Linked DNA regions of Homo sapiens: regions 1 and 3 are each linked to region 2. Evidence: fine-mapped expression QTL. A gene starts in region 2. Each other region holds a variant in brackets. All regions are shown on one strand. Distances are between the middles of the regions.

Region 1 (10,715 bases), 43 kb before region 2:
GCAGAAACTACACCCCTATGCTTACTCTTGAGAAAGTGGGAAAAAAATGAGGTTTTTAAAATTAAAGACCTAAAACCTAGTCCAATTGAACATTATTCTAACAGATGATCAGATTCACAATTAGAAACAAATATTTGAGCTATTACTGTTTTTCGTTTATTTGCTTGTTTTTTATTTTTGAGACAGAGTCTCACTCTGTCACGCAGGCTGGAGTGCAATGGTGCTATCTCGGCTCACTGCAACCTCCTCCTCCTGGGTTCAAGCAATTCTCCCGCCTCAGCCTCCTGAGTAGCTGGGATTACAGGCGTCTGCCACCATGCCCAGCTAGTTTTTGTATTTTTAGTAGAGACTGGCTTTCACTATGTCGGCCAGGCTGGGCTCGAACTCCTGACCTCAAATAATTCGCCCGCCTCGGCCTCCCAAAGTGCAGGGATTACAACCATGAGTCACTGCGCCCACCCCAATACTGTTTTTTTTTTTTTTATGGTGACTCTTTGACCAAATAATTTTTAATTGATTTTAACTTTTTACCCCTTTAGCTAAGTTCATTAATCCCAAAATGGCAAATTAGGAAGTAGGCTCTTTTAGCAACGAATTACAATTAATCAATGTTCCCTGTGGCAAAATAACCTTACTTTATTTTATAATTCAGTTAAACTAAAAATTTTAATCTTTACCTGATCAATCATCTTTATGAAAAGTCAACTATTGAAACTGTATGTCCTGAATTTGGTTTTTTACTTCTGAAGATTTAAAACAATATCAATGACCTCTACAGCAAATATTTTCTTCACATCTCAGGGATTTTCCTATATTTAAATTGCTCCTTCATTTACTAACTTCTAATTCTTTTTTGCAATTACCTTTGTTACTCAAATTCTCAGTTTCAATGAGACAATTTTTAGATGCTTCAAATAAAAAAACAAAGGAGGGAATTTAGTCATCTTGATTTTATATCAGAAGTGATTTTCCCTTTCCCTGTTAGCCAAACAAAAAATCCAAAACTCTGATCAACATCATTTCTATCTTTTACAGCCAAGGACAGAGAAAAACATCCAGATTTGGGAACACAATAACAGATATGATTGTCCCCACTTCTACTGCCAAAATTATAAAACTGTTAACTCCTCCTCATCAGCTTACCTGACTACTTAAAAGCAAAAGAGTTAATTAAGTATTACTAATTGGTGATACTAGATCAATGAAGGTAGGTCATGGCCCAAATTGTACTTATGGAGATGGAAGAGCTTAATTGTTTTTATTAGGCATCAACTGCATCAGAAATTTCATTAGCACTTAGCAAATTTGCCTATGGTCTTCTTAAGGTGATCATTTTGAATTGGGTTCTTTAAAAGACATGAATGACTGGCTGCAGTGACTGACACCTATAATCTCAGCACTTTCAGAAGCCAAGGTGGGTGGATTGCTTGAGCTCGGGAGTTTGAAACAAGCCTGGGCAACATGGTGAAACTTCCTCTCTACAAAAAATAACAAAAATTAGCCTGACATGTTGGTGCGTACCTGGTGTTCCAGCTACTAGCGAGGCTGAGGTGGAAGGATCACTTGAGCCTGGGAGGTGGAGGCTGAAGTGAGCCATGATCATACCACTGCACTCCAGCCTGAGCAATAGAGCAAGACTCTGTCTCAAAACAAAAAAACAAAAAACAAAAAAACCCCAAAAGACACGAGTGTTCAGACACTCAGTTGCAGACATTAAAAGAGAGCACAGACACATGTGCTGTTTTAGGTATAAAGGAAAGACTCTGGAATCAGGAATGAGAAGCGAACATCCTGCTCTGTCGCTCTAGCTCTCTATGCCTCAGATTCCTATCCTGTAATAAGTGGGCATTTGGGTTACATGATTTCTAAACTCTAACAGCACTCATAATCTATTATATACCAATCACCTATGCTAATTTACTAATTATACACTAGATAGTATGGTTATATACTAACAGTCTATTATACAATCTGCTAAAAATTCATAAAAATATCTATCCCTTTACATTTTCCACAAAAGGGCTTGACCATTTTTCCTGAATTATTTTTAGTTTTCTGCTCTATAGAGATAAGAAAAGTTATTCCTTTAATAGAAACTTCTATTCAAAGCAGAAAATATGAGCAGATCTTATTTATAGCCCCTAGGCCCCATTCTTAACAAAACATTTATCTCAGTAAGAAGGAAAGCACAGAATAAACTTTGTTTAATCGTACCTACTCTTCTATGCTGTCTAAAAGCATTTCCGTGACTTTTACCAAAGGGCTGGATAAAAATAAAACAAATCCTTTATTTGGCAGGATTGGGCCTGGGGAAGGGAGAATATGAATGTCCTAAGAAGGCATCTGAGATCACATCCTGTATTTGTTGTTATTATTGTTTTTTTTTTTTTTTTTTTTTTTGAGACGGAGTTTCGCTCTGTCGCCCAGCCTGGAGCGCAATGGTGTGATCTCAGCTCACTGCAGCCTCTGCCTCCTGGGTTCCAGCGATTCTCCTGCCTCAGCCTCCCGAGTAGCTGGGATTACAGGCGCCCACCACCACGACCAGCTACTTTTTGTGTTTTTGGTAGAGATGGGGGGTTCCACTATGTTGGCCAGGCTGGTCTTGAACTCCTGACCTCAGGTGATCTGCCTGCCTCGGCCTCCCAAAGTGCTAGGATTACAGGCATGAGCCACTGCACCTGGCCTGTTAGCATTGTTTTTAAACTCATTGTTGTTATTTGCTGCTAACAAAAATGTAAGTTACATCTTCTCCTTATTACAACACAGATGATCTTTATCACCAATCCTGGACTCTTCCCCTTCCCTGGCATCTTCCTCCAAAGCAGGGGGTGGGGAGGGAGGAAAAAGAAGGAGGAGAAGGAGTAGGAGGAGAAGGAGAAGTAGGGGGAGGATGGGGAGGGAAGGGTGAAAGAGAGAAAGAAGGAAAGAAGCGGAGTATCCTGAGGCCTGGGGCCCCTGAGCTGAGATTCCTCCTCTGGCCTAGGTGCCTCGGGGTATTGTTGCTGTAGGCACTAACTATACAGCAGTGAACAAACCAGACACAAAATCCTGCTTTTCTGGAGCACATGTTTTCAGTCCTTAATAGCAATAAGTAAGTCAGAGTGTAGATTTGGGTAAATTTTGTTATCAATATTGTCCTGTGTTACATTTTCTTAGTAGTAAGTATTTAATATTTTCCCCCCCGTCTAAAAATAAACACAATGTAAGTGACTCAACAGAACCAAAAAAATTGTTGTCAATTTTTAAATTTAATAAATGAGATATTTGTTGGGATGTGATTTTTTTACACGAGAGTTAGTTATGAGTTTCTATTAACAAAAGCTGGAATTGTTCTATATTTGAATTCGGGTGTCTTTTGGAAATTCAATATTAAATCTTAGTACTAATAGTACATGCTGTTCAATCCCTGTAATACTTTCTGATTGTCTTAAATGGACTGCAACTTTTCTTTCTTTAAAAGTGGTCAGATATATTGCGTTCTTAAGATTATAAAGTAGGCCAAGTGCAGTGGCTCACGCCTGTAATCCCAGCACTTTGAGAGGCTGAGGTGGATGGATCACAAGATCAGGAGTTTGAGACCAGCCTGGCCAATATTGTGAAACCCCATCTCTACTAAAAATACAAAAATTAGCTGGACGTGGTGGCGCGCACCTGTAGTCCTAGCTGTTTCAGAGACTGAAGAAGGACAATCGCTTGAACCTGGGAGGTGGAAGTTGTAGTGAGCTGAGCTTGCGCCACTGCATTCCAGCCTGGGTGACAGAGCAAACTCCGCCTCAAAAAAAAAAAAAAAAAAAAAAAAGAAGAAGAAGAAGAAGAAGAAGAAGAAGAAGAAGAAGAAAAATGATGATAAAGTAAAAGGCCAGTAACTGGCAGCCACATGTTATGCAAACATTCTCCCCTCTGTAAATACTACATGAATGTTATTTTTGCTTTCAGAAATCACTAAACCTTGGCCATGGTCACTTCCTCTTTTCCAATCTCTGTGGCAGTTTTTGCCCTAATAACCCTGCAGGTTGGTACTCAGGACAGTTTTATAGCTGCAGTGTATGAACATGCTGTCATTTTGCCAAATAAAACAGAAACACCAGTTTCTCAGGAGGATGCCTTGAATCTCATGAACGAGAATATAGACATTCTGGAGACAGCGATCAAGCAGGCAGCTGAGCAGGTATTCTCTTATTTCTGTTAATCATAATGTACACGAGGGGCATGGGAGCTGGTGGAAGACGAGAGAGCTGAATTGTCTGTGTTGTACATGGAAAAATCATTTTTATTTTGCTTGTTTTGAACAGGGTGCTCGAATCATTGTGACTCCAGAAGATGCACTTTATGGATGGAAATTTACCAGGGAAACTGTTTTCCCTTATCTGGAGGATATCCCAGACCCTCAGGTGAACTGGATTCCGTGTCAAGACCCCCACAGGTATTTTAACTATCTTAGTCTTTTGTGCAAAAGTAACTCTCTAAAATGCGCACGTTCACCAAAGCAAAATGATTGCTCTTGAATTACCATATATGTGGTATATGTTATGGTTATATTTATCTCAACATTTGTCAGATTTTAAAAAATTGTACTTAGATACTATTTAACAATCTTTTGTGATTGAAAATCTTTATTAAATTTTGAGAAAATGTGTAAATAGGGTATTCCTGCAAGAAAAACTAAGGGAAGAGATCTCATAGATACAAGTAGTAACTTAATTTCTGAAGTAGACAGTGGATTGTGTTAGGAATACATTCCAAAGCCTCTGCTGAAGGGACACCCTTTCAATGTTATAGAGTCTCTCCATTCCAGAGTTGCTTCTTAGGCAGAAAGACTTCACCATGTATTTTCAAGTGAATCATAAGACCTTATGCTTTGAAACTGCATTTTCCTAGGCTCACAAATCTAATTTTCCTGGGAAAAGGTTATCTAGAAACCTTCTAATATATATTAAAAATCTGGGTCCTACTGTCATCCTGGAGGTGTCAACGTGGCAGTTGCATGGACAAGTCTGGCATGAAAAGACAAAATTATATCTGGAGATAGAAAATCAAATGTCAGCATATAGATGGTGTTAAACACCATGATGAGTTCACCTGTGGAGTGAGTTAGAGAAGAGTTTAGGTATAAGGCTTGAGCACTAGGAAATTCTAGTGTTTAGACTCGGAAGAAAACGAGGAATCAGCAGAAGAGTCGAAGAAGAGCAACCAATAAATAGGAAAATGAGAGGGTGGGTCCAATAGAGAAGTGAGGTGTTTCCAGAAGGAGGTGTAATTAACTGTGCCAACTGCTGTTGAAAAGTTAAGATGAGATCAGGTAAAATGTGGGGGTCACTGCTGGCATTAGTAAGAGTTTGGGTGATAGAGATACAAG[T/C]TGGAGTGCTCTGAAAGGGAATGGGAGAGGAGGAACTGGCAACAGCAAGAGGGACTGATCTTTTGAGGAGTTTTGCTTTAAGAGAGAGATGAGGATTAAAGCAATATTTGGAAGGGCATGTTTGGAAAGGTCAAAAGAGGTTTTAATTTTATTTTTTAAAGATGGGAGGTACTAGAGGATATTTCATTGCTGATGGGATGTTTCAGTAGAGAGGAGACCCTTGATGAGGCAGGAGACCGAATAATGAATTTCTGGAGCAATAGATACCGTGTGGGAAGCATTCATCAAGTGTATAATCATCTGTGGCTTTTAAAGTATGATATTTTTAGGCATAGTTTTTGTATTAACTTAAGTTCCACTTAAGTGGTTACAGTTGCTATCGTTTCCATATAAAGTGACTAAAATATTTTTTTAAAATTGAAATTTCTTAATTATAATTTGGTTTAGATTTGGTCACACACCAGTACAAGCAAGACTCAGCTGCCTGGCCAAGGACAACTCTATCTATGTCTTGGCAAATTTGGGGGACAAAAAGCCATGTAATTCCCGTGACTCCACATGTCCTCCTAATGGCTACTTTCAATACAATACCAATGTGGTGTATAATACAGAAGGAAAACTCGTGGCACGTTACCATAAGGTAAGAGAGAGTGACGGACGTGTAAAATGGAGCGTGTTGTGAGTGGTCAATGCTGGGTTTAGGAGTTTGAATTTCATTCCCTATATGATACAATATTACTAGAGGGTTTTTTTGTTTTGTTTTGTTTTTTGTTTTTTGAAAGTGGGCAATAAAGAAAATGACACTTTTGGCTGGGCGTGGAGGCTTATGCCTGTAAGCCCAGCACTTTGGGAGGCTGAGGCAGGTGGATCACTTGAGGCCAGGAATTTGAGACCAGTCTGGCCAACATTGTGAAACCCCGTCTCTACTAAAAAATACAAAAATTAGCGGGGCGTGATGGCACATGCCTGTAGTCCCAGCTATGTGGGAGCTGAAGCAGGAGACTTGCTTGAACCCAGGAGGTGGAGGCTGCAGTGAGCCGAGATTGTGTCACTGCACTCCAGCCTGGGTGACAGAGGGAGACTCTCAAAAAAAAAAAAAGAAAAAAAAGAAAAAGAAAAAAGAAAATGACACGTTGTAAAAAACTACTCAGAAAAACATGTAGGCAGAGAACTGTTAAAAAAAAAAAAAAGTAGCATGATGGTCCAGGATTGAGATAAACTTTTTGCACATATAAAACAAATAATTTTAACATAAAAAAAGATACTAAGGTGACTATAATCTGGGCACTGTTTCAATAATTTTATATTTTTTTAGAGACAGGGTCTCACTGTTGCCCAGGCTGGAGTGCAGTGGAGCCATCATGGCTCACTGTTAACCTCAAACTCCTGGGCTCTAGTGATCCTCCTGCCTCAGCCTCCCAAGTAGCTGAGACTGTAGGCATGTGCCACCATGCTAATTTTTAAATATTTTTTTGGAAACAGAGTCTCACTACATTGCCCAGGCTGTCTTTGAACTCTTCACCTCAAGCAGTCCTCCCACCTTGGCCTCCCAAAATGCTGAGATTAGAGGCATGAGCCACTGAGCACAGCCATAATCTAAATACTATTTAATATTGAAATGGTAGAAAGATGTTTCAAAATTGTATGAATCAGCTTTGCATAAGTTAATTTGCTATCAAACCACAAAATACCTTATTTTCTACACCAGCTAATTTAATTACCATCTTATAGATTTAAGATCAAACCATAAAATGTTTACTTTAAATTCTGAATTGAAAAAAGGAATCAAATAACCTTTAAGTCATAATTTTATACTAAACTAGGTAGAGAAAGAAGCCTGGCCTTTTAAATGGATATGTGTGATGTACAGGCAGTATGAATGTCCCTTCTCCACACCCAGATATTTTGTAAGCATCTTAAACTGTAGCCTCAGAATCTTTGGAGTGGAGAAATTATCTCCTGGCAGTCTCAGTTAAAATATAAATATTAATTAAGAGGAGGGATGTTAAACCAATGGTTTTCAAATGATTTCGATCATGGACCCCTATTGGAAAAAATCGTTAACATAAGTCCTCAATATATGTATTTTTGTGTGTGTATTTATAAAGTGCAACAATTTCAAAATGCTTTCTTCATAATTTTGTGGATTTTGACAGCTTCTTTTCATATATATCACTGCATTTCACTTTCTTCTTAAAATGTGTCTCATAGTAAAAATAGAAAGGTCAGTGCTTCCATTTTCTTGCTTGGGAGATTGTTTGCATTATTTGTATTATCTTTCAATGCAGTTTATTTGCAGTAATCATTTGAAGCTATTCTGCCATTCTGTAAATATGCAGGATGGCACAGTGCACTGAATGTGGACAAACTAGCAAGGAACCTGCAGTCACCCTGTCTAAGTTGAAAGGCTCTCACTCTTCCCTGAGGGTACCTCAGGGACCGTTTGTAACCCATGACCTCTGACATATGTGAACCTAATGAGAATACCTTTGTCGATCAATTCCTTTTTTTTTTTTTTTTTTTTTTTTTTTAGGCAGAGTCTGGCTCTGTCATCCCGGCTGGAGTGCAATGGCACGATCTCAGCTCACTGCAACCTCTGACTCCCAGGTTCAACCCATTCTCCTGCCTCAGCCTCCTGAGTAGCTGGGATTACAGGTGCATACCACCACACCCGGCTAATTTTTGGATTTTTTAGTAGAGATGGGGTTTCTCCATGTTGGCCAGGCTGGTCTTGAGCTCCTGGCCTCAAGTTATCTGCCTGCCTTGGCCTCCCAAAGTGCTTGGATTACAGGCATGAGCCACCTTGCCTGGCCTGTCAATTCTTAAAATAGTAGTAAAGCCCAATTTCTTTTCTATTTTTTAGATATTTTTTCTACACTGCAGACCATTTTATTAACTGTTGATTCCATTTATTATATTAGACTAAGTTTTTTTTTAGTTTACCTAGAAGGAATCGGGAAATTAAATACATTTCTATGGTAATTTTGAAAGGTGGGCAAGAGTCACTGAGATTACTTTGGATGGGACACTAAAGAGAGAGATGACATCTCTCACCTGACTTACAGGTATTTATTATGCATCTATTAATATTACGTTTCTAGGCACCAAGGATTCAAAGAAGAATAATGCATGTTTTTTAACTTTTAAGAAGCTTATAGGGCCAGGTGCTGTGGTTCATTCCTGTAATCCCAGCACTTTGGGAGGCCCAGGTGGGTGGATCATGAGGTCAGGAGATTGAGATCATCCTGGCTGACACGGTGAAACCCCGACTCTACTAAAAATACGAAAAAATTAGCCGGGCATAGTGGCACGTGCCTGTAATCCCAGCTACTCGCTTGAACTCAGGAGGTGGAGATTGCAGTGAGCCGAAATCATGCCACTGCACTCCAGCCTGGGTGATAGAGCGAGGCTCCGTCTCAGAAAAATAAAATTAAATTAAATTTAAAAAAAGCTTACGGACTTTGGGGTTTATGGGGGGGTATTTGGCTCTTAACTGAGAGAGAGGGAAAGAGAGAGAAGGGAGAGAGAGGAGATGAGAGATGCTATGGACGTATGTTACATATTCCTCCACATTTTCCTTAGAAATTTACTTCCAATTGCCAGATTTATCCGCTTCCTAGGAGATTCCCTGCAGTTGACCATAGCCAAATCTGTTACCAACTTAGAGGGTTTTTATGAGTCATTTCTTCAACAAATAAGGTTTTACTGGTTTTCTCCTATCCATTTGTTGTAGTACCACCTGTACTCTGAGCCTCAGTTTAATGTCCCTGAAAAGCCGGAGTTGGTGACTTTCAACACCGCATTTGGAAGGTTTGGCATTTTCACGTGCTTTGATATATTCTTCTATGATCCTGGTGTTACCCTGGTGAAAGATTTCCATGTGGACACCATACTGTTTCCCACAGCTTGGATGAACGTTTTGCCCCTTTTGACAGCTATTGAATTCCATTCAGCTTGGGCAATGGGAATGGGAGTTAATCTTCTTGTGGCCAACACACATCATGTCAGCCTAAATATGACAGGTAATTCATGACCAGGTTAGGTTTCATCTTATATTTTTAAGTGCAGAGAAATGAATGCCTCAGTTATGACTTGTATTAATTTTTTGCTTATTGGAAATTCTTACTGTGTTTGTCATAGTTTCACAATAGAAAAAAAAAGCTAGCACTTGATTATAAGCTATGGTTATACTAAGACCTTTATGTGTATTATTCATTTAATTATTACAATAATTATATGAGATAGATAGTGTCATCCCAATTTTGCAGATGAGAAAATTGACATACAGAGAGTGCAAGTAATTTGCCAAATGCTACCCAGCTACTACTTTCCTCAGTGGCCATGGAAGCCTCTATATCTTGCCCTTTGTCTCCTCCTATGGCTGCATGGCATATCCTCGTGACATGGCTGCTGTCTTCCTCTAGAGCAATTAATGAGAGGGGACAAGAGAGAAAAGGAAAGAAGCCACATTGCTATTTATGACTAGTTACCCACCATCACTTCTGCCATGTTCTATTCATTGGAAGTGAGTCACTAAGTCCAGCCCCTCTTCAAGGGGAAAGGAATTAGATCCTCCCACCAGAAAGAAGAATTTTAAGGAATTTTTGGATATATTTGAAAACCACCACAATGAGGAATAGGGGAGAATTTTTATTCCCTTTCCCCACCTTTCAGGAACTCCTGACTACAAAGATTTTTGTAGTTGGTTTAATTTTCCATAATGCTAATAAATAATGCTATTATATTTAAGGTTTAATTGAAATGAGACCAAGGAATGTTTATTTTAATCTCTTCCATTAGAGAATAGAAGTAGTTAGGTGTTCAGTGCAATTAGAAGCATGTATCCTCTCTCATCGTGACTAATATGGTGGCGTGATCACATGCCCAATTCTGATGGGGAAATTGGCAGTTTTGGTTTTTTTGTGTGTGGTGTTGTTTTTAGAAGACTTGTCTTTCATTCACAGGAAGTGGTATTTATGCACCAAATGGTCCCAAAGTGTATCATTATGACATGAAGACAGAGTTGGGAAAACTTCTCCTTTCAGAGGTGGATTCACATCCCCTATCCTCGCTTGCCTACCCAACAGCTGTTAATTGGAATGCCTACGCCACCACCATCAAACCATTTCCAGTACAGAAAAACACTTTCAGGGGATTTATTTCCAGGGATGGGTTCAACTTCACAGAACTTTTTGAAAATGCAGGAAACCTTACAGTCTGTCAAAAGGAGCTTTGCTGTCATTTAAGCTACAGAATGTTACAAAAAGAAGAGAATGAAGTATACGTTCTAGGAGCTTTTACAGGATTACATGGCCGAAGGAGAAGAGAGTACTGGCAGGTAATTTCAGTTCAAATGAAA
Region 2 (10,715 bases):
CACTCTGCTAGACTCAGCTCTCACAGCTGTATCTTCCTTATCTAAAATCTTTCTATGGATAGTGAAGCCACTCTTATGGCTTTAATTAATATTTCTGATACAGCAGAGTATAACTCACTGGTAAACAAAAAAATTTTTTCTTTCATGAGAGCAAGTTCAAGCCACATCATCATGTTTACAGGCTACATTAACAATGCAAAAATAGTTTTATTAAGTCCTATGCAGAGATATGTATTATTGTAACATTAGCAACTTGTGATATTACAGTTCCTGGCTTATAACTCCCATATCCTTTGTTAGGGTTTTTTTTTTGTTTGTTTGTTTGTTTTAACATTAGGGGGTTTTAGGCCTCAGGAGCAGGCCTCATGAAACAGAATCTCCCTCTCTGACCTTACCCTGTCCTCCCTTTACCTACCTAAGGCAGGACTATAATCTGATTGTGGCTCAAAAGACCCTCATTTCAGAGAGGGTCCCACCCCATACCCTAGAGGAAGAAATGCTATAAAGAGATGTCAAGACAAACCTGAACAGACAAGCTTTACTGGGTTTCCCCACTCAAACTGTTAGTATGGGATCATAACCTTTTTGTCCAATCGCATTTCTACATGGTTGTCAATCGTGACTATGTAATGAAGCTTCCATAAAAACCCAAAAGGACAGGGTTCGGAGAGTTTCCTTACAGCTGAACACGTGGAGGGTTCCTGGAGGGTGGCACACCTAGGGGTGCGTGGAAGGCTCTCCAGTCCTTCCCCCATACCTTGCTCTATGCACCTCTTCATTTGTATCCTTTGTAATATCCTTTACAATAAGCCACTAAAGGTAAGTGTTTCCCTGAGTTCTGTGAGCCACTCTAGCAAACTAATTGAACTAAAAAAAAAAGGGGTCATGGAAACCCCAACCCAGAGCCATTTGGTCGGAAGATCTGGAAGCCCAGACTTGTTACTGGTGGGAAGGAGGGGGCGGTTTTGTGGGACTGAGCCCTTAACATGTGGGATCTGATGCTATCTTTGGATAAATAGTATTTGGATTGAACTGGAAGATAGCCAGCTGATGTCTGATGCAGAGTCAATTGCTTGCTTTCTAGTGGGGAGAAATCTCCACCTACTTGGGAGTAACCAGTCTTTTGTGTTAGTTGTTGTGCTATGAGACCAGAGGAAAAATGGATTGTTTCTCCTAAAACCAGATTAATGTCAACAAAAGAATTGACATTGTGTTGTAGCCACTAAATATTAAAATATGGGCGTATATTTTGAGTAGCAATGCAGAGGCCGACTGCCAATCAATCTTTTATCAGACACAAGTATATGGACACACTTTTACATGCTGTGCACATGGCTTTTCAGAGTTCACCAGGTGAAGTGCAAGAGGCAGTGCCCACTCCACTCAGTCCTTGCTCTTCCCTCCTTTTCCCTTGTTTCTGGTTCTCTCTGCGTAAGCTGGGCAGGACTTGCTTCTGAGTTCCTCTGGGGACCTGCTGCCTGGGGTGGGGTGATCACTGCTGTGCTAGCAAAATCCAGAATACTGTGGGTCTTGCCCTATTCTGGACAGTGCGATGTCATGTTTTCCTTGCAAAAGGCAATCTGCTCCATCTATGCAAGTTTGGTTGGAGGAGTCTGGAGGTATCAATTAGGGCTTTTGTCTACACTCAAAGTCATTTCCTTGGAGACAATTCTCCCAGTTTCTACTTTGTGTGAGCAGAAGGGCTGCATTTGGGGACCTTGGCTGGCTGTAGCAGTAGGGTTAAGGATCCAGAGAACCAGCCTAGGAGTTGTAGTAGAGGCTGCTGGTGCCTCCCAGTTCCATGTCCTGCTGATGATACTCTACTGCAAGAACTGCACTGTTTCTATTTCTATTTCTTTCTTTCTTTCTTTCTTTTTTTTGAGACGGAGTCTCACTCTATCACCAAGCTGGAGTGCAATGGCGCAATCTCGGCTCGAGGCAACCTCCGCCTCCCGGGTTCAAGCAATTTTCCTGCTTCAGCCTCCCGAGTATCTGGATTATAGGCGCCCCCGCCCCCCACACTGCTCCCTTCCATGCCCAGCTAATTTTTGTATTTTTAGTAGAGACAGGGTTTCTCCATGTTGGTCAGGCTCATCTCAAACTCCTGACCTTTGGTGATCCTCCCGTCTCGGCCTCACAAAGTGCTGGGATTATAGGCATGAGCCACCGCGCCTGGCCGAACTGCATTATTTCATCTGAAGATTTGCTCTCAGCTAGTACATGCTAAGTAGGCCAGAAAGGGTAGATTCATGTGGCAGTGACATGCTGGAGGAGGGACAAGGTTATTGGTCCTATGATTTAGTCTCAGTCTTTTAGTGAGCCTGTACCCCTGGGTTTATGAACTTCACTTGGCTTTTTTCTTCTGCCATTAGTTGGCATAAAAACAAGCTAGAGATGAGATTTTCCCTTTCCCCAAGTTAAAGATTAGAGTGGCTGGGGTTGGCATTTTTCCTTCCCCTAGGTAGGTTAGGCTCTGGTAAAATACTTTACTTTGAGGGCAGGCTTTTGTTAAGAAGAACAGACCAGAACTCTCAAGGTTGTCCACCCTGAGCCTCCACCAATTCGTCAATTACAGTTCAAGTGAACCCACGGTACTGGCGCCAGCCGCAGAGGACTCTGCTCGCAGTACACTCTTAACCTCTGTATCTGCCTATCTCTGCAGTTCTGAGGACCGCAGTTTATCCTGTGATCTCAATTCTCTGATGCATCCTAGAAAAGTTGTCGATTTTCATTTGTTTAGCTTTTTTCTTGGTGTGAGCATGGGAAAAATGACTGCCAAGCTCTTTATGAGTTGGACTAGAAACTCCACGGGAGGTTTAATATTTTTAATCTAAGAAGGTCAAGAAGTAATTTTTTAACCTCTTGCCAACTCATCTCAGTTTTAACTTTTATTTCAGTGCTTCCTTTTACAAATTGTTACATAATAATGACATCTTTTTGTGAAATATGTGGTATTCCCACCCACCTGGGCATGGAAAGGCCCTAAGAGGTCAGCAAGCAGTTAGAGAAGCTGGTGTTTACCGGAAACTCAGGAGAACCAGCCAACCACAACCCCTGGGTTACCTTGGCAATTGCAGAATAAATGCATTATAGTTACTAAAGTAAAAAATTAGATATGCCTGTTTGCAGATTGAACTATAAAAATACCATTCAAAGACAAATAGATCTAAAAATAAAATGGAAAAACATAAACACTAATTCTGTAAATATTATACTTAATGCACAACTGAAACAAAATTTGCCAGCTTACTCAATATCAAAATCTATGAACAGTTTTTCTATTTTATATAATTTCCCTCTCCTCTCTCTGGATCTCGCTCCCCAGCTCATTTTTTCTTTTTTTTGCTCTGATTCTTTATACACCTCTGTTGCCTCTGTGATAAGCAGCTTCAAAGATGGTTCCTAATGCTTTATTGGATAGAATACAACAAAAGCGATGAGGTGTTGCTTCCCCAATTACATTACGAAGCATCCGTGGCTTCCATCTCCAGTGGGTTCACTTGCTGTCTGGCTCTAAGGGAATCCAGATACCATAATGCGGGCTGCCCTATGGTGAGGTTTGCATCACTAGGAACTCATGTCTCTGGGCAACAACCAATGAGGTCTTGATCCCTGCCGTCAGCCACATGAGGGAGCTTGGAGCTCGGAAGTGAATCCTCCTGGAGTCAAGCCTTGATATAGCTAGCCCTGGCAGCTGCTTGACTGCAGCCTTGTGAAAGAGACCTTGGGCCAGAGGCACCAGCTAAACTGCCCCTGGATTCCTGACCCAGAGAAAGTGGGAGATGATGTATTTTTGCTTTTTGAAGCTGCTGAATTTGGGGATAATTTGTTATATAGCAATAGAAAATGAGTAACTCTTTTGTATTCCTCTTTGTCCTGGCTTCCCCATTTTGAGGAAAATAAAGTAAATCAAAGTGTAGAGCTGAAATATTCACATGAAAATAATAATAAAGTTTTAAAATTATTTGAATGTCTTGTGTTGACATTCCAAAATATATGAATTCCAAAAATTTATATGTTGAAGTCCTAACTGTCAGTATCTTAGAATGTAACTTTTTTGGAAAAGGGGTCATTTCAGATCTAATTAGTTAAGATGAAGTTATACTGGAGTACAGTGGGCACTAAATCGAATTGGTCCTATGATTGAGTCTCAGTCTTTCAGTGAGCCTGTACCCCTGGGTTTATGACCTTCAGTTGGCTTTTTTCTTCTGCCCTTATTTGGCATAAAAACAAAGCAGGTGGATCACCTGAGGTCAGCAATTTGAGACCAGCCTGCCCAACACGGCGAAACCCTATCTCTACTAAAAATACAAAAAATTAGCCTGGCGTGGTGGCGGGCGCCTGTAATCCCAGCTACTTGGGAGGCTGAGGCAGGAGAATCACATGAACCCGAGAGGCGGAGGTTGCAGTGAGCCGAGATTTCGCCACTGCACTCTAGCCTGGGTGACAAGAGTGAAACTCCATCTCAAACAACAACAACAATAAACAAACAACAACGATGACAAAAAAAGCTAGAGCTGGGATTTTCCCTTTCCCTGTGTTAAAGATTAGAGTGGTGTCCTCACAAAAAGGGAAAACTTGGATACAGGCACACACATGGGGAGAATAGCATATGAAGAGACACAGGGAGAAGGCAGCCATCTATGGGTCAAGGAGAGAGGCCTGGAACACATCTTTCCTTCACCGCCCTCAGGAGGAACCAACTCTGCTGACACCTTCATCTGGGACTCCCACCCTCCAGAACTGCAAAGCAATAAATTTTTTATTTTTTACACCACCCAGTTTATTGTATTTTGTTAGGCAGCCCTAGCGAACTAATGTACATAGAGTTCTTGAGTTAATCTTCACAAATTACTGCAATAAGGTAGGGTCTTTTGTTATGTAACAATGCTATGAAATCATAGCGTTTTCTTAATTAACTTCCGTAGTTTAAGGTACTAAGTTCTGGACACCACGTGTCTTCTTTCTATAAATACCAGGACATGCTCTGTTTTTCAGCACTCATTGGACTTCAGCATGACTACTCAGTTGCCAGCTTACGTGGCAATTTTGCTTTTCTATGTCTCAAGAGCCAGCTGCCAGGACACTTTCACTGCAGCTGTTTATGAGCATGCAGCGATATTGCCCAATGCCACCCTAACACCAGTGTCTCGTGAGGAGGCTTTGGCATTAATGAATCGGAATCTGGACATTTTGGAAGGAGCGATCACATCAGCAGCAGATCAGGTACCATCTCTACCATCTCTCCAGTGTACTGGATTCTATGAGAAAGGAGGGGGTCCTAGGAGACAGGGCCACTGTCAGGGTCAGTTACACTTTTAGATGATATATGTATCAGAGTAGCCAAGAACCTTTATTTTACAGTTAGAATTCTACTTTCCTCTCAAAATTAGAGCAAGGACTTCCCTAAAAGTAAGAACAAAGTTAAGAAAAGAACAATTTGCTCATTATCAAGAAGCAGCAGACCTTTGAGGAACTGGCCATAAATTCAACATCTTTGTTCCCCTTTTCTGGTACAGATGGAGGATGGAGGATAAATGGGTCAGGGACTAGGTGCTATTTTCAGAGTATTAGTGGCCTTCATGTACTCATGTGCTATTAAGGCTTTGCAGGTTTTCGAATAAATTTATAATCTGAAAACAAATTTAAGTTTTCAATTCCTTGCCAGCATGCATTATATACTTCACACTTCATTCTAATTACAAGATAAAAGTATATGTAATGCATTGTGAGTCCTTAAGTTTAGTGAAGGTTTCAGTTTGAAGTTAATCATACAGTATAAATTGTGGTTTACACAAATATTATTTTAAAAGCTATTGATCGATTAGGTGTAGACCAGGAATACATGAAGTGTGATAAAAGTCATGGATAAATGTGTATTACATATATCTATAAATATATATTCTTTTGTGTTGTTGAGTTAAGGTCTCACTCTGTCACCCAGGATGGAGTATAGTGGTGTGATCACGTCTCACTGCAGCCTTGACTTCCCGGGCTCAGGTGATTCTCCCACTACAGTCTCCAGAGTAGCTGGGACCACAGATGCATGCCACCGTGCCCAGCTAAGTTTTGTATTTTTTGTAGAGATGGGATTTTGCCATGTTGCCCACGCTGTACTTGAACTCCTGACCTCAGGTGATCCACCTGCCTTGGGCTCCCAAAGTGCTGGGATTACAGGCATGAGCTACCGTGACTGCCCTATATTCTTATATATACTAATATTTAAAAGGTTATCAGGAGTTCTGATGTTCTTTTTCATCCTTAGTCCAACTATTTCCTTGAAGGTCACAGAGCTTTTTAAGGTGACTCTCTAATTGGAAGGTGCCCAGGTTAGCTCAGGCAGTACTTGTAGGCATGGGACAGTTCAAGTAACCAGTTTGTGGCTCCTCTTTTTCTGAGAAGCAGGAATCATGTTTGCAGGGGAAAGCTAGGGCAGAGGAGGAAATAAACAGAATATTTAAGTTATTAATCAGTCTTGACACAGGCACAGTCATCAGCGAAAGTTCAAGGAGAGGCTTGGTTCCAGGATAAGCTAGGTTTATAGTTAACGACTGCCATAGGAAACAACAATGGCAGGATTAGAAAATTAAAATGCTTGACTAAGCCAGGTGCGGTGGCTCATGTCTGTAATTCCAACACTTTGGGAGGCTGAAGCAGGCGGATCACCTGAGGTTGGGAGTTCAAGACCATCCTGACCAATATGGAGAAACCCCATCTCTACTAAAAATACAAAAATTAGCCAGGCGTGGTGGCAGATGCCTGTGATCCTAGCTACTTATGAGGCTGAGGCGGGAGAATCGCTTGAACCCGGGAGGTGGAGATTGTGGTAAGCCGAGATCTAGCCATTGCACTCCAGCCTGGGCAGCAGAGCGAAACTCCATCTGAAAAAAAAAAAAAAGAGAGAAAAAAAAATGCTTGACTAGAAGCCCAAACCTCACCATTATGTAACATATCCATGCAACAAACCTGCATTTGTACCCTTTGAATCTAAAATTAGAAATAAAGAAAAGAAAAGAAAAAGAAAAAGAAGTGACAGTGCACTGAAAAAAAAGGAAATTAAAATGCTTTGGAAAAGAAAATAAATTATAAAAATATAGAAAACAAAATAAGATTTAAGGGGTGTGGGGGAAGCCCAAATAGTTGTTACTCAGCCACTCAGCTCCTCAGCTCCTCTTGCAGGCCCCCCTTTGGATTAAGTTGCATTTTTAACAGGGTGCGCATATTATTGTGACTCCAGAAGATGCTATTTATGGCTGGAACTTCAACAGGGACTCTCTCTACCCATATTTGGAGGACATCCCAGACCCTGAAGTAAACTGGATCCCCTGTAATAATCGTAACAGGTAAAGAAACAACTTGTGAAAAATTCACTAGTAAACATCAACTTGATTTACCTGGGAAAACTTTGTTGATGATCATTGCATAGATCCATGATCAATTCTTAAGTTTCAGTATAGCTTATTTTTCATCTACTATGGGTATATTTACTGGGAGAGCAAATATGAATTATGAAGTCACAGAAGTCAGAGCTAGAAAGTAGCTTAGAAATCATCACATTCAGTGTGAACATCTCTGGTCTCTGACTCCTCACCAGTGAACAGAAAAATATTTCCCTGTGTAGGTCTGTGATTTGAAAACTATATGAGTAAATGGCAAAAGAGAGTCACATCAGTTTAAGATTAATAGTTTTCCTTTCTCATTGCTAAGATAGCTGATGAGGTTAATGTAGTAAAGTCCTTAAAGTGTAAGCTGATTGTAATCTAAGAGGTGATATGGCAGGATTTTAAGTGGTTTAAGTCAGGTCTCGGCTACAGAGATATTAAGTGTGGTGAAAGCAGCACTATTAATTTTAATGTAAGGAAACCAATATCTTATACACCTAAGAAAATCATGTCGATTCACATACTTCTTTCTGAATACACATGGCTAAAATTATTTTAGGAATTCCTCTTTTGGAACTATTCTCAAAACCGCACAACGCCAGTTAGAATGGTGATCATTAAAAAGTCAGGAAACAACAGATGCTGGAGAGGATGTGGAGAAAGGGGAACTCTTTTACACTGTTGGTGGGAGTATAAATTAGTTCAACCATTGTGGAAGACAGTGTGGTGATTCCTCAAGGATCTAGAACCAGAAATACCATTTGACCCACCAATCCCATTACTGGGTATATACCAAAGGATCATAAATCATTTTACTATAAAGACACATGCATGCATATGTTTATTGCAGCACTGTTCACAATAGCAAAGACTTGGAACCAACCCAAATACCCATCAATGGTAGACTGGATAAAGAAAATGTGGCACATATATACCACAGAACACTACACAGCTGTAAAAAAGGATAAGTTCATGTCCTTTGCAGGGACATGGATAAAGCTGGAAACCATCATTCTCAGCAAACTAACACAGGAACAGAAAACAAAACACTGCATGTTCTCGCTCATAAGTGGGAGTTGAACAACGAGAATACATGGACACAAGGAGGGGAACATCACACACCGGGGCCTGTCGGGGAGTCGGGGGCTAAGGGAGGGATGGCATTAGGAGAAATACCTAATGTAGATGATGGGTTGGTGGGTGCAGCAAACCACCATGGCACGTGTATACCTATGTAACAAGCCTGCATGTTCTGCACATGTATCTCAGAACTTAAAGTATAATAATAATAATACTAAAATTAAAAATCCCACAGAAACTGGCTGGGTGTGGTGACTCATGCCTGTAATTCCAACACTTTGGGAGGCCGAGGCAGGAGGATCACCTGAGGTCAGGAGTTTGAGACCAGCCTGGCCAATTTGGCAAAACCCCATCTCTACTAAAAATACAAAAATTAGTGGGGCGTGGTGGTGGGCACCTATAATCCCAGCTACTTGGAAGGCTGAGGCAGGGAGAACTGCTTGAACCTGGGAGGCAGAGGTTGCAGTGAGCCAAGAGAGTGACACTGCACTCCAGCCTGGGTAACAGAGCTAGACTCTGTCTCAAAAACAAACAAACAAACAAACCCACAAAAACTACTTACAGAGACACCTTGATTTTGACAAGGTGGATTTTGATAAATTCCAGTGTTATTTATCATAATCATTTACTCTATTCTTATTTAATTGTACCATAATTATTTCTTATTTAATCATGTCATATGTCAGTGCTTCAGTTTCTAAAAGGCAAGCACTCTATTATCACTTCCACTATGAATTGAATTGACTTATTTCTGAATGGCCTTTCCCTAGAACCTCATCTCCAAGGGCCTCCTGAACATCCCCACAAGGATGTCCCATTCACTTCATTTCAAGGAACACGGTTGCCCATTTATGTTTTCCATCAACTAATGATGTCTGAATGTCTTGCCTTAATTCTCTCTGTCTCTCTCTCTCTTTTTTTTTTTTTTGAGAGAGAGACTCTGTGTCGCCCAAGCTGGAGTGCAGTGGCGTGATCTCAGCTCACTGCAACCTCTATCCCCCAGGTCCAAGCAATTCTTGTGCCTCAGCCTCCCGAAGATGACAAGTGTGAGCCACAACACCCAGCTAGTTTTTTGTATTTTCAGTAGAGATGGGTTTCACCATGTTGGCCAGGCTGGTCTTGAACTCCTGGCCTCAAGTGATCCACCTGCTCGGCCTCCCAAAGTGCTGGGATTACAGGTATGAGTCATCACGCCCAGCTGCCTTAATTTATTAACTCTGCAAATTTTTTTTGAGTACCTATTATGTCTAAACATTGTTCTGGGCAATGAAGTGAACAAAACAGATTAAAAATTCCTGTCCCCTTGAAATTTATATTCTAGTGTGGGGAGGTAATAAATGTTTTAAAAAGATAATTATCTATCTATCTATCATCTATCTATCATCTATCTATTATCTATCTACCTATCTTTATATAGGTATCTTTCATCTGTCTACCTATCTATGATATGAGGTGGAAGTAAATGTTATGGAAAAAATAAAGTGGGGAAGGTGAATAGGGTGGCAAGCGTGGGGCTGAAATTTTAAAAGGTCGTCTGAGGGCATCACAGTGAGATTTCAGCAAAGACCTGAAAGAAATGAGGCAATAGATCATGTGAGTATCTGAAAAAAGTGCATTCCAGGCTGAAGGAATTCTAAATTCCAAGATCCTGTGGTCAGAGTATGTGTCTAACCTATGGAACAGAAAAAGGGTTAGTGTGGTTACAGTGATGTGACAGAAGAGGAGAAAAGTAGGAAATGGAGGCAGAAGGGCAGGAGGAGCGCAATGTTGAGAATAGACTCCAGGGTATAGGTCACCAAAGAAGCAGAGGGCAGTTCAAAAGCTGTTGTGATCATTATGGCATAGAGATGATGGGTCTGAGACCAAGAAATGGTAGAAGTTTAGGTATTGAGAAGTGGACAGATTCCGAATAAAGTTTGAAAGTAGCACTGGCAGGTTTTGTTGAAAGACTGGATGTAGGATGTGAGAGAAAAGGAGGACTCAATATCCTTCCCTGCTCTCATAGAATCAGATCTCATCTTATTGAGTATGTTTGAAGTATGCACATAGTTGATTGCTTTCTCTTCTCATATTCACCAAACTTTTGGGACCTACATCACCTCTTAGACTGAGCGTTAAAGGAACAGGCTCTCATCACTTTTCTTTTTTATTTAATTTATTTAGCATTTATATGTCATATCGTTCCAGAAGGATTTGAAGTTTCTAATTATATCTAATATAATTAAAAATAGGATACTTTAGTTCTAACAACAA
Region 3 (10,715 bases), 25 kb before region 2:
ATTTACTTTCCAATCAAAAGGCAATGTCGACATTTATTTCTACAGTGAACGTAGTTTTGAGTGCTAGAAGAATTGATGGCTATTCCAAGTTCATATCAAAGGAGACCTGACCCAGGGCACTCATAGCCCCAGCTGTCCCACCTTAAGGCTATGGCGTAATTTAACAGGCAGAAATCTCATAACACAAAGACCATGACAGTTAAAAGTTACACTATTTTCAGCATTTGGTTGACTTTTTACAAAATACACATATTCCATGCTACTTGAAGTAAACTAGTATATTTGTTATTGATCATTTAATTCAGATACTCTTAAAATTAAAGAACTGATTTTGAATTTTCAGATTTATTTTCTGATTTTTATCTCCCAAAGTATTTTTAAATTCAATACTTTTACATAAAAAAACACAATTGAAGCATTTATCTTTTGTTTTTACATATTGTCATAAACCTACTTATGGATTTGATTTTAAAATTCTACTAAAATACACTAGAAAAGTAAGATTCCTTTTATAATCTCGTGGTTAGTATTAAGAGAAGAAATATGGAAGTTAAGCCACACTTTGTATTTAATTTTGAGAAGAGCATACATATTCCCTATGTTCAGCATTGGGACATCAAAGATGGCAATTTTAAAGCTGTAATGAACGTGCATTTGTGTATATAGTCCAAATCATATAATCATCAAAGTTTTATGCTCTTTTTTCTTTTTCTTTTTCTTTTTTTTTTTTTGAGACAGAGTCTCACTCTGTCACCCAAGCTGGAGTGCAATGGTGGGAGTTCAGCTCATTGCAACCTCCGCCTCCTGGGTTCAAGTGCTTCTCCTGCCTCAACCTCCCAAGTAGCTGGAATTACAGGCACCCACCACCATGCCCGGCTAATTTTTGTATTTTTAGTAGAGATGGAGTTTCGCCATGTTGGCCAGGCTGGTCTCGAACTCCTGACCAGGTGATCCACCCACTTTGGCCTCCCGATGTGCTGGGATTACAGGCATGAGCCACCATGCCTGGCTTCTTTTTCCTTTTCATAAAGTATGGGACATTTAAAATTTGCCAAGTTTTGCTTGAGGAAGTTAGATGTTGTGCAGTGGTTTTGCAGCATGTATTTTGGCTCTTGGGCAATGACGTTTCATTTGCAGAAGTTTAGATGTTGATTGAAAATCAACAGCTGACGTTAAACAAACTGGTTTGAGTAAGATACAAGCAAGGAGCTCCTTTCACAGAAAGGGACAGTTCTGATTCAAGCTTGGAGCTCTCAGCTGTACCTCAGTTTGTTAAAAATAAAAACAAAAAACGAAAGCACCAAGTGCCAAGGAAATTAAAGAGCACTTAATGCTCTACTGTAAAATTGCCTGCACCACATTTTAACCCATCTCCACCGTGGTTTCTCACATACATTTTATTTTATCAAACAACCCAAGCATAGTTTCATTTGGCCTTTATATTTCTTTGATAACTATCTTTCATCCCATTTTATTTTATTTTTACTTATTTATTTATTTATTTTTTGAGATAGAGTCTCGCTCTGTTGCCCAGGCCGGAGTGCAGTGGTGCGATCTCGGCTCACTTCAAGCTCCGCCTCCCAGGTTCACGCCATTCTCCTGCCTCAGCCTCCTGAGTAGCTGGGACTACAGGCGCCCGCCACCACGCCTGGCTAATTTTTGTATTTTTAGTAGAGACGGGGTTTCACCATGTTAGCCAGGATGGTCTCGAACTCCTGACCTCATGATCCGCCCACCTCGGCCTCCCAAAGTGCTGGAATTACAGGCGTGAGCCACCGCGCCCGGCCTCATCCCATTCTAAAATTTCATGTTAGTTCTTGAGTCCCTTGTGGTTCTGGAGATAGTAAACAAAGCTCTTATTTTCTCCTATTTGGCTTTCATTAGGCTTTTTTCCTGAAATGCTCTTTTACAACTTCCTGGTTACAGCCCCCTGTATTACAAAGTCACATGCTCAGCAGCAGCCTTCTCTCAGGGCTCACTACCTAGCCTTCCTTCATTCATTCAGGAAGCATTGATCACTTACTATATCCCAAGCACTAAGTACTGAGACAGTGGTCTATGCATTCTCTTTGCTCCCTTTGCCACTCTGTGACATTGCCCCCTTTGATATGATCTATTTCCATAATTTCTATGATATGCTCACAACCTGCTTTGCAACTACACTGCCCCTACTTTCTACTTTCTTTGCATTTTGACCTGTCCTCATAGTGTTGGCTCATTGCTCTGTACAGGTGATTTCTGTCAGCATTCTTTCTGTTTTGGCCTCTTTCCTAAATTCTTTTTACATTTCTAACTCCATTCTGACCATCATTCCAAGATAGTCCATGGGTGATAATGTTCTAAAAGATATCTGAGGCTGGATGCCTGCTTAGGTCAATATGGTTATTATACCCACACCCACACTCACATGCTTACACTGAGCCACACGCAGCTACTTCCAATGAAAGCATTCCTGAGAAGACATTTGGACAAAGAAACAGGGACAACTGTGAAGAGGATTTCTTGAGTATGTAAATAAGACAGAAAGTACTTGGAATGGGAAAGAAAACATGCCTGTAATCCTGGTACTTTGGGAAGCTGAGGAAGGAGGATTGCTTGAGCTCAGGAGTTCAAGACCAGCCTGAGCAACATGGTAAAACCCTGTCTGTACCAAAAATACAAAAAGCCAGCCAGGTGTGGTGGTGTGTGTCTGTGTTCTCAGCTACTCGGGAGGCTGAAGTGGGAGGATCACTTGAGCCTCTGAGGTCAAGACTGCAGTGAGCTGTGATCACGCCGCTACACTCCAGCCTGGACAAAAGAGCAAGATCTTGTGTCCAAAAAAAAAAAAAAAAATCAACGATTTATTTGAGAATTTCTAGACCACGTGAAGCTAAGTCAAAGGAGAAAAATAATGAGAGTGAACTGACTAATTTCAATTTACCTGTCTTCAAGAATTCTGTGACATCTTATATTGTTTGAATATGGATTGAACAACCCTGCTAAAAGCTTTGATCAGTTATGTTATAAACCTTTGCTTCCCTGTTCTGTTTCATTTTGCATTTCAGAAATTAATTTTAAAAATACTGCACATCTACTACCATCTGATCTTTGACAAACTGGACAAAAACAAGCAATGGGGAAAGTATTCCCTATTTAATAAATGGTGCTGGGAAAACTGGCTAGCCACAGGCAGAAAATGGAAACTGGACCCCTTCCTTACACCTTATACAAAAATTAACTGAAGATGGATTAACGACTTAGATGTAAAACCCAAAACTATAAAAACCTTAGAAGAAAATCTAGACAATATCATTCAGGACATAGGCACAAACAAAGATTTCATGACAAAAACACCAAAAGCAATTGCAACAAAAGCAAAAAATGACAAGTGGAATCTAATTAAACTGAAGAGCTTCTGCACAGCAAATGAAACTATCATCAGAGTGAACAGACAAACTACAGAAAGGGAGAAAATTTTTGCAATCTATCCTTCTGACAAAGATTCAATATCCAAGAATCTACAAGGAACTTAAACAAAAATTTTGCAATCTATCCACCTGACAAAGGCCCAATATCCAGAATCTACAAGGAACTTCTTTTCCACAAGAAAAAAAACAAACAACCCCATTAAAAAGTGGGCAAAGGGCATGAACAGACACTTCTCGAAAGAAGACATTTATGCAGCTAACAATCACATAAAAAAAAAAAAAAACTTAGCTGGGCATGGTGGCTCATGCGTGTAATCCCAGCACTTTGGAGGCTGAGGCGTGCTAGTGCTATGATCAATACAAGGACCAGAAATGGATCAATTCTACCTTGGAAGACCAGAAGGATGTCACAGACAAGCAGAATAAGATAATCAGGGCATTCTCAATAGAGTTAGTCATGCATGCAAAGACATGGAAGTATGCTTCAAGCAGTGTTTAATGTATTACGGAGGAAGAGGATGCAAGGAGGAAGGATAAGGACAGACGATGTAAAAAATAAGACTAGAGAGATAGTCCAGAGTCAGTGTTGAAACACAAATGAAGTCTAGACTTTATCCAGAAGCTGAGAGAAAGACACATTGAAGAGTTTTAGAGTCAAGTAGCCATGAGGGACTAAACAGTTTAAAAACTAGATAAATTTGATGGCTTTTTGAAGGATGGAGTGGAGAAAGAAGTTCTAAAGGCAGAGTGGCCAGGAAGGAGCCAGTTGCAGCAGTCCCCTCAGGGTAGTGGAGACAGTACAGGGACATGCTTGAGGAACAGCAAAGAAGTCAATGCAACTGGAGCCGAGTGAACATGGGAAAAGTAGTAGGAATTGTTAGAAGTGACAGCTTATAGTGGTTTTTTTAGGCATTGTAAGAACTTGGCCTTTTACTCTGAGTAAAATCGAATGCCACTGATAGGTTTTTTTGTTTGTTTATTTGTTTGTTTGTTTTTTGAGATGGAGTTTCACTCTTGTTGCCCAGGCTGGAGTGCAATGGTGCAATCTTGGCTCACTGCAACCTCTGTCTCCCGGGTTCAAGTGATTCTCCTGCCTCAGCCTCCTGAGTAGCTGGGATTACAGGTGCATGCCACTGTGCTCAGCCAATTTTGTATTTTTAGTAGAGACGGGGTTTCTCCATGTTGGTCAGGCTGGTCTCAAACTCCTGACCTCAGGTGATCTGACCGCCTTGGCTTCCCAAAGTGCTGGGATTACAGGTGTGAGTCACTGCACCCAGGCCATTGATAGGTTTTGAGCAGAGGAATGATATGATTAGTCTTATATTTTGATAGAATGGCTCTGATTGTTGTTGTGCAAAAGTAGAAGTAGTGGTACAAAAACCAGGTGCAAGGGTTTGGGAATAATCCAGACTAGTGATAATGACGGCTTGGACCACAGTTGGTGTAGTAAAAGACCACTTGCTTGAACGTGTGTAGAGTGAGAGAGACAGAAAGAAGTAAGGGTGACTCCAAGGGTTTTGGCCGGAACAAAAGGGAGATGAGAGAAGCCGTTAATTGAGATCTGAAAGACTGCTGGTGAAAGAGCATCAGGAGCAGAAGGTCAGGAGCTCAGTTTTGTTCATGTTGATCAGATAAGCCTTCATACAGTCAAGTGGAGATTTTGAGTAGACTGTTGCCAGATATAAGAGTCTAGAGTTCTCAAGAGAGGTTTGAGGTAGATATATAAATCTGTGAGTCACTAATATTAAATATATAGATGGTATTTAAAGAGATGAAATGGATGTAATCACCTAGGAAGTGAGTGTAGATAGGAACAGAAGACTTCCAAAGGTTGGGCTCCAGGGTGCACCAGTGTTGCCAAGTCAGGGATGATGAGTAGAAACCAGAAGAAAAAGTCCAAAGAAACAAAACAAAGTAAACAAATACAAAAACTAAGAAGAAAGAAAGAGGAAAACTAAAAGGGTGTGAAGAAGAAAGTACATTAAGAATGGGATAATGGCAGCTTTGTCAAGTACTACCAAGACATTGAGTAAGATGACATTGAGAATTGACCATCAGACTTAGTAATAGGGAGATTAATGGGAACTGGACAAGGCAGTGAAGTCATGGGGGTAAAATCCTGTCCATTGGGAGGACAGGAATTGAGGCAAGGAGTACATACCATCGTGGAAAGGAATTTTGTTATAAAATAAAGCTGAGAAATGGAGCAGGAATTGGAAGGGGATGTCAGATCAAAAG[G/T]CTTTTTTTTTTAAGATAGAAAATGTTACAGGATAGTTGTAGAATATATAATAGGATATTTGTGTTTTCTTTATTGTATCCAATAGAGAAAGAAAAATTGATGATAAACAGTAATGGGGCTGGGCACGGTGGCTCATGCCTATAATCCCAGCACTTTGGGAGGCCGAGGTGGGTGGATCACTTGAGGTCAGGAGTTCTACACTAGACTGGCTAACATGGTGAAACCCTGTTTCTACTGAAAATACAAAAATCAGCCAGGCATGGTGATGTGCGCCTGAAAGCCCAGCTACTCGGGAGGCTGAGGGAGGAGAATTGCTTGAACCTGGGAGACGGAGGTTGCAGTGAGCCAAGATTGGGCCACTGCACTCCAGCCTGGGTGATGGAGCAAGATTCCATCTCAAAAAAAAAAAAAAAAAGGCCGAGCATTGGTGGTTCACGCCTATAATCCCAGCACTTTGAGAGGCCGAGGTGAGCAGATCACTTGAGGCCAGGAGTTTGAGACCACCCTGGCCAACATGATAAAACTCCATCTCTGCTAAAAATACAAAAATTAGCCAGGTGTGGGGGGCAGATGCCTGTAATCCCAGATACTTGGGAGGCTGAGGCAGGAGGATCTTTTGAACCTGGGAAGTGGAGGTTGCAGTGAGCCAAGATTATACCACTACACTCCAGCCTGGGTGGCAGAGTGAGACCCTGTCTCAAAAACAAACAAACAAAAAAATAAACAAAGTAAGAGAGAAGAACTTCTAGAGCAATGTCCTTGGGATCCAGTGCTCAAAGATAGGGGCTAGACTTAAGTAGGGTCAAGAGGAGTCATTTACAGTAAGGATGGGGGGAGGCAGAATTTACAGGTACAAATGGCTGGCAGGTGGGTTGATACTTGGTGGGAGCTTGTGGAAAGGAGTTCTTTTGAGTTGGATAAATAGGCCTGAAGTTCAGAACGGAAGTTTGAGCTAAAGATAGAGACACAGTCATTATCCTTTTGTAGAAGATAGTTGAAGGTATGAAGTAGAAAAAAACCTGGGGCCAGGGGAGAGGGTAGAGTAAGGGACTGAAAGACAGTGAACAACAATGTGGCTACTGGCCATAAGTGCATTAAGAGTTTAGAGAAGGGAATAGCAACAAGACTGGAGAGGCAATGGATTTGAGCTCGAAAGGCAGGATTTGGTCAGAATCATTCCAGGATCAGAGCAACAGTGATCATGTTACAATAAGAAGAGTACTTTTAGCTAAGAACACAAAATATAAAATGGAACCAAGAGAAAGAAGGCTCTTACTGTCTGCTTTGATTCAATATATGCATGGGAAGTATCTTAATTAATGACAGCAATGGTCAAGGGAACTCTAATGGATTACAGTATTGAGGGTTAGGGTGGGAGGAGTGGGATCAGAGAGGCTGATGGAGAGCCTGAAAGAATTCTTATTTATGGGGTCAGGAACTTGATAAGGAGAATGGAGAGGAGGTTTTACAATGAGTTTAGAAATAAAGATTTGGGGAAAGCCAGTAAACTCTTAGATATTTTATTACAGCACCTCTCCTTTAAGATGTGTCCCTTACATATTTAAAAGAAGAATTATATTTATTGTAATACAAAACTTCTGACTCTAAACTTCTTAATCCTACAATAATGCCAGACTGTCATAAGGATTATGTACCAATACAGTGTTTCAAATAACTCATAGCTGCACGCCTTATACACCTAGGAAGCAAAGACATTACTAACAACATTGGGTAATCAAATATTTAACTCAAGTTTCTATTGATTTCAACACACAAAAAAAGCTGGTACATTTCCTGGAACTAGGGGCTGGGAGAATGAAGGGGAATTCCCATATGTTTCCTTTTGATTCTATTCAGAAAGTCAGGTGAACCAAGAAAAGAGTTAGAATTTCAACTTGAAATATGAAAATTATTTTCTTCTCATCCCAGATCAATCCATCTGTTTTACATAGTTTCCCTCTTCTCCTCAGAAATTTTTTTGGAAAAGAACTTATGTCTGATGTCTGATGAAAACAATTTATGTCAGACATAAACTCAGAATTTAGGGCTGAATTTATGTTCATATGTCCTTATTTCCTGAAATGGTATCAGGGCATAAGGACATATGGAAACACTGTGGGGTATCTGGGAGCAGAAATATTTGGATAATGGAAAAGTTTATTGAAACCAAGGGACTTTGAATTATAGAAACAAACCAAACCCAAAATAGACACAAATCTCCATAACTTACAATTTTCCTTAGATCTTAGAAAGAATCTCAAGAGGGAGAAGCAGTGTTAATTGTTCTAGAATCAGAGATTTAAACCTTAAAAAAAATTCTACATTTTAAATTAACTGATATTCAAACAAGGAGATTCAATCCAAAATTGGGCGAGGGAAGTGAATTTAACTAATCAAAAAACATTTACAGAGCTTAGCACAGTATAAAATTCTATAGAAGCAGCAGAGAATTATAATGTGACCCTGCCCTTAAGGGACTTATAAGGATGATATGTTTAAAAAATAAAAGAATTAAAGGAGAACTTAACACTTTTTGAATTATTGATTAGTCTTCATATGGAAGCGGGTTTAAACTGTAGAAGACAGGTAAAGTAAATTGCATCTCAATAACAAGAATGTTCTTAAAATTGGCAATGTTCAAAGGTGGAATAGACTGGCCCATCAGGTAGTAGATTCCGTCATTCAACATTCATTCATATATTGAGCTTTCACCATCTGTCACACATGTGCTGGGGTGATGAGGTTCAACAGTGAGCAGGACACTTCCCTTACCCTCCAGGGGCCACATCCCAGGATACATCATCTCTGTCTAGATGTTTATTGGACATGGATGTTCTGAAAGAAAACAGCAAGTTTCTTTTTAATCTCTTTAAGAAGACAAAACATACATATATAATATTAAGTATTGGTATAATATTTAAATTAAAGGTCAAGACAACAGCAAGGAGTGAGAGACATTCAGCAGCACAGAAAAAAATGCTATAGGAGTTCAGAAATATCACTTAGGACTGGAGTGGATTTGGGAGGACTCTAGGGGGAGCTGGAACTTAGACGGATGGAGAACAAGGGCTTTTCAAATAGAAATGGCCATACAAATATGTAAGTAGAGTGCTCAACAAATTGTTGCTATGATGACTACCTTCCAATATTGGCCCTATTAATAGAAATGTTGGCTTACCAGGAAAATTTTTTTTTATTAGAAAAGACTTCAACTGCCAGTGTGTTTTGGACTGGGGTGAATTCATCTGGTTGGCTCAATCTTTTAGTGTTGACTTGACTCTGAACAATGTCAACAACTGCACTGTACACTTGAATCAATCCAATTACGTCCTGGCTGTCAGTTTTCTTGCACAACATCCTTTCTCAATGCTGTGTTGTGTAATATATGTGCAAGAAAATATAAACAGCTGATTGCCAGGAGGGATTTAATGTAAAGTTTTTCCAGTGAAACAAAACGTAAGAATCTGAGTTTGTTTTTCAAAGATCACTAAATTTTAGTTATGATTATATCACATTTTCCAAAATGTGTGGCAGTTTTTGCCCTCCTTGCTCTGAGTGTTGGTGCACTGGACACTTTTATTGCTGCAGTATATGAGCATGCGGTGATATTACCAAACAGAACAGAAACACCTGTTTCAAAAGAAGAAGCTTTGCTCCTGATGAACAAGAACATAGATGTTTTGGAGAAAGCAGTTAAGCTGGCAGCGAAGCAGGTATTACCCTTTTATACTTGTAAAGGAGACTTGCAGTTTGGTCAAAGAGTATTTGGAATTCATGACAAACTTTTTTGCCCCACTTGTTTCGAGCAGGGTGCACATATCATTGTGACCCCAGAAGATGGAATCTATGGTTGGATCTTCACCAGGGAGAGCATTTACCCCTATCTAGAGGATATACCAGACCCTGGAGTGAACTGGATTCCATGTAGAGACCCCTGGAGGTAATATCATATCATTAATTTCTAAACAAAAAGTTGTGATTTGGTAAAACACCAACAGTAAACTCACTGAATTTGACTGGTAATTGTGTTGATAAATAGTCAATCTGTGGCATAGGATGTAGATGCTTTTTTTTCCCTGTAATTTCAACTTTTAGCTTAGATTGAGGGAGTACATGTGCAGGTTTGTTACATGGGCAAATTGCATGACGCTGAGGATTGGGGTACAATGATTGCACCACCCAGCATAGTATACAACAGGAAGGTTTTCAGCCCTTGCCTTCCTCTCTCTCTCTCCCCTCTATTAGTTCCCAGTGTCTATTGCTGTCATCTTTATGGCCATGAGTTCCCAATGCTTAGCTCCCACTTATAAGTGAGAACATGCAGTATTTGGTTTTCTGTTCCTGTGTTAACTTGCTGAGGATAATGTCCTTTGGTGCTGCAAAAGACATGATTTTGTTCCTTCTTGTGGGCACCTAGGTTAATTCCATATCTTTGCTGTTGTGAAAAGTGCTGCGATGAACATACAAGTGCACGAGTCTTTTTGGTAGAATGATTTCCTTTCCTTTGGGTATATACCTAGTAATGGGATTGTGAGTCGAATGGTTGCTGTGTTTTAAGTTCTCTGAGAAATCTCCAAACTGCTTTCCACAATGGCTGAACTAATTTACATTTCCACCAATAGTGTGTAAGTGTTCCCCTTTCTCCATAGCATCTTTTATTATTTGACTTTTTGTTAACAGTCATTCTGACTGGTGTGAGATGATATCTCATTGTGGTTTTGCTTGGCATTTCTCTGATGATAAGTGATGTTGAGTGTTTGTTCACGTGTTTTTTGGCCACTTGTATGTCCTCTTTTGAGAAGTGTCTGTTCATGTCTTTTGCCCACTTTTCAATGGGGTTATTTGTTTTGTTTTTGCTTATTGATTTAAGTTCCTTATGGATTCTGGATAGTAGACCTTTGTTAGATGCCTAGTTTGCAAATATTTTCTCCCATTCTGTAGGTTGTCTATTTACTCTGTTGATAGTTGCTTTTGCTGTACAGAGCTCTTTAGTTAAATTAGGTCCTACATGTCAAGTTTTGTTTTTGTTGCAATTGCTTTTGAGGACTTAGTCATAAATTATTTTCCAA

The links. PIP is the estimated chance that this variant, and not a neighbour inherited with it, causes the effect.
Region 1: its variant is fine-mapped to the expression of VNN1 in whole blood (INTERVAL, PIP above 0.99).
Region 3: its variant is fine-mapped to the expression of VNN1 in whole blood (INTERVAL, PIP above 0.99).

The regions. Positions count from the first base shown.
Region 1 is chr6:132,751,124-132,761,838 of GRCh38, reverse strand. It overlaps VNN2 (vanin 2), which reads left to right and starts at 3,935. Exons shown (of 7, transcript NM_004665.6): 1 at 3,935-4,168; 2 at 4,293-4,423; 3 at 5,804-5,996; 4 at 9,090-9,378; 5 at 10,321-10,694. The coding sequence starts at 3,956. RefSeq lists an enhancer at 1,399-1,588. The variant T/C (reference allele first, on the strand shown) is at 5,357.
Region 2 is chr6:132,708,337-132,719,051 of GRCh38, reverse strand. It overlaps VNN1 (vanin 1), which reads left to right and starts at 4,997. Exons shown (of 7, transcript NM_004666.3): 1 at 4,997-5,226; 2 at 7,213-7,343. The coding sequence starts at 5,017.
Region 3 is chr6:132,733,124-132,743,838 of GRCh38, reverse strand. It overlaps the pseudogene VNN3P. Among named protein-coding and RNA genes, the nearest start is that of VNN2, 19 kb to the left of the region's middle. The variant G/T (reference allele first, on the strand shown) is at 5,646.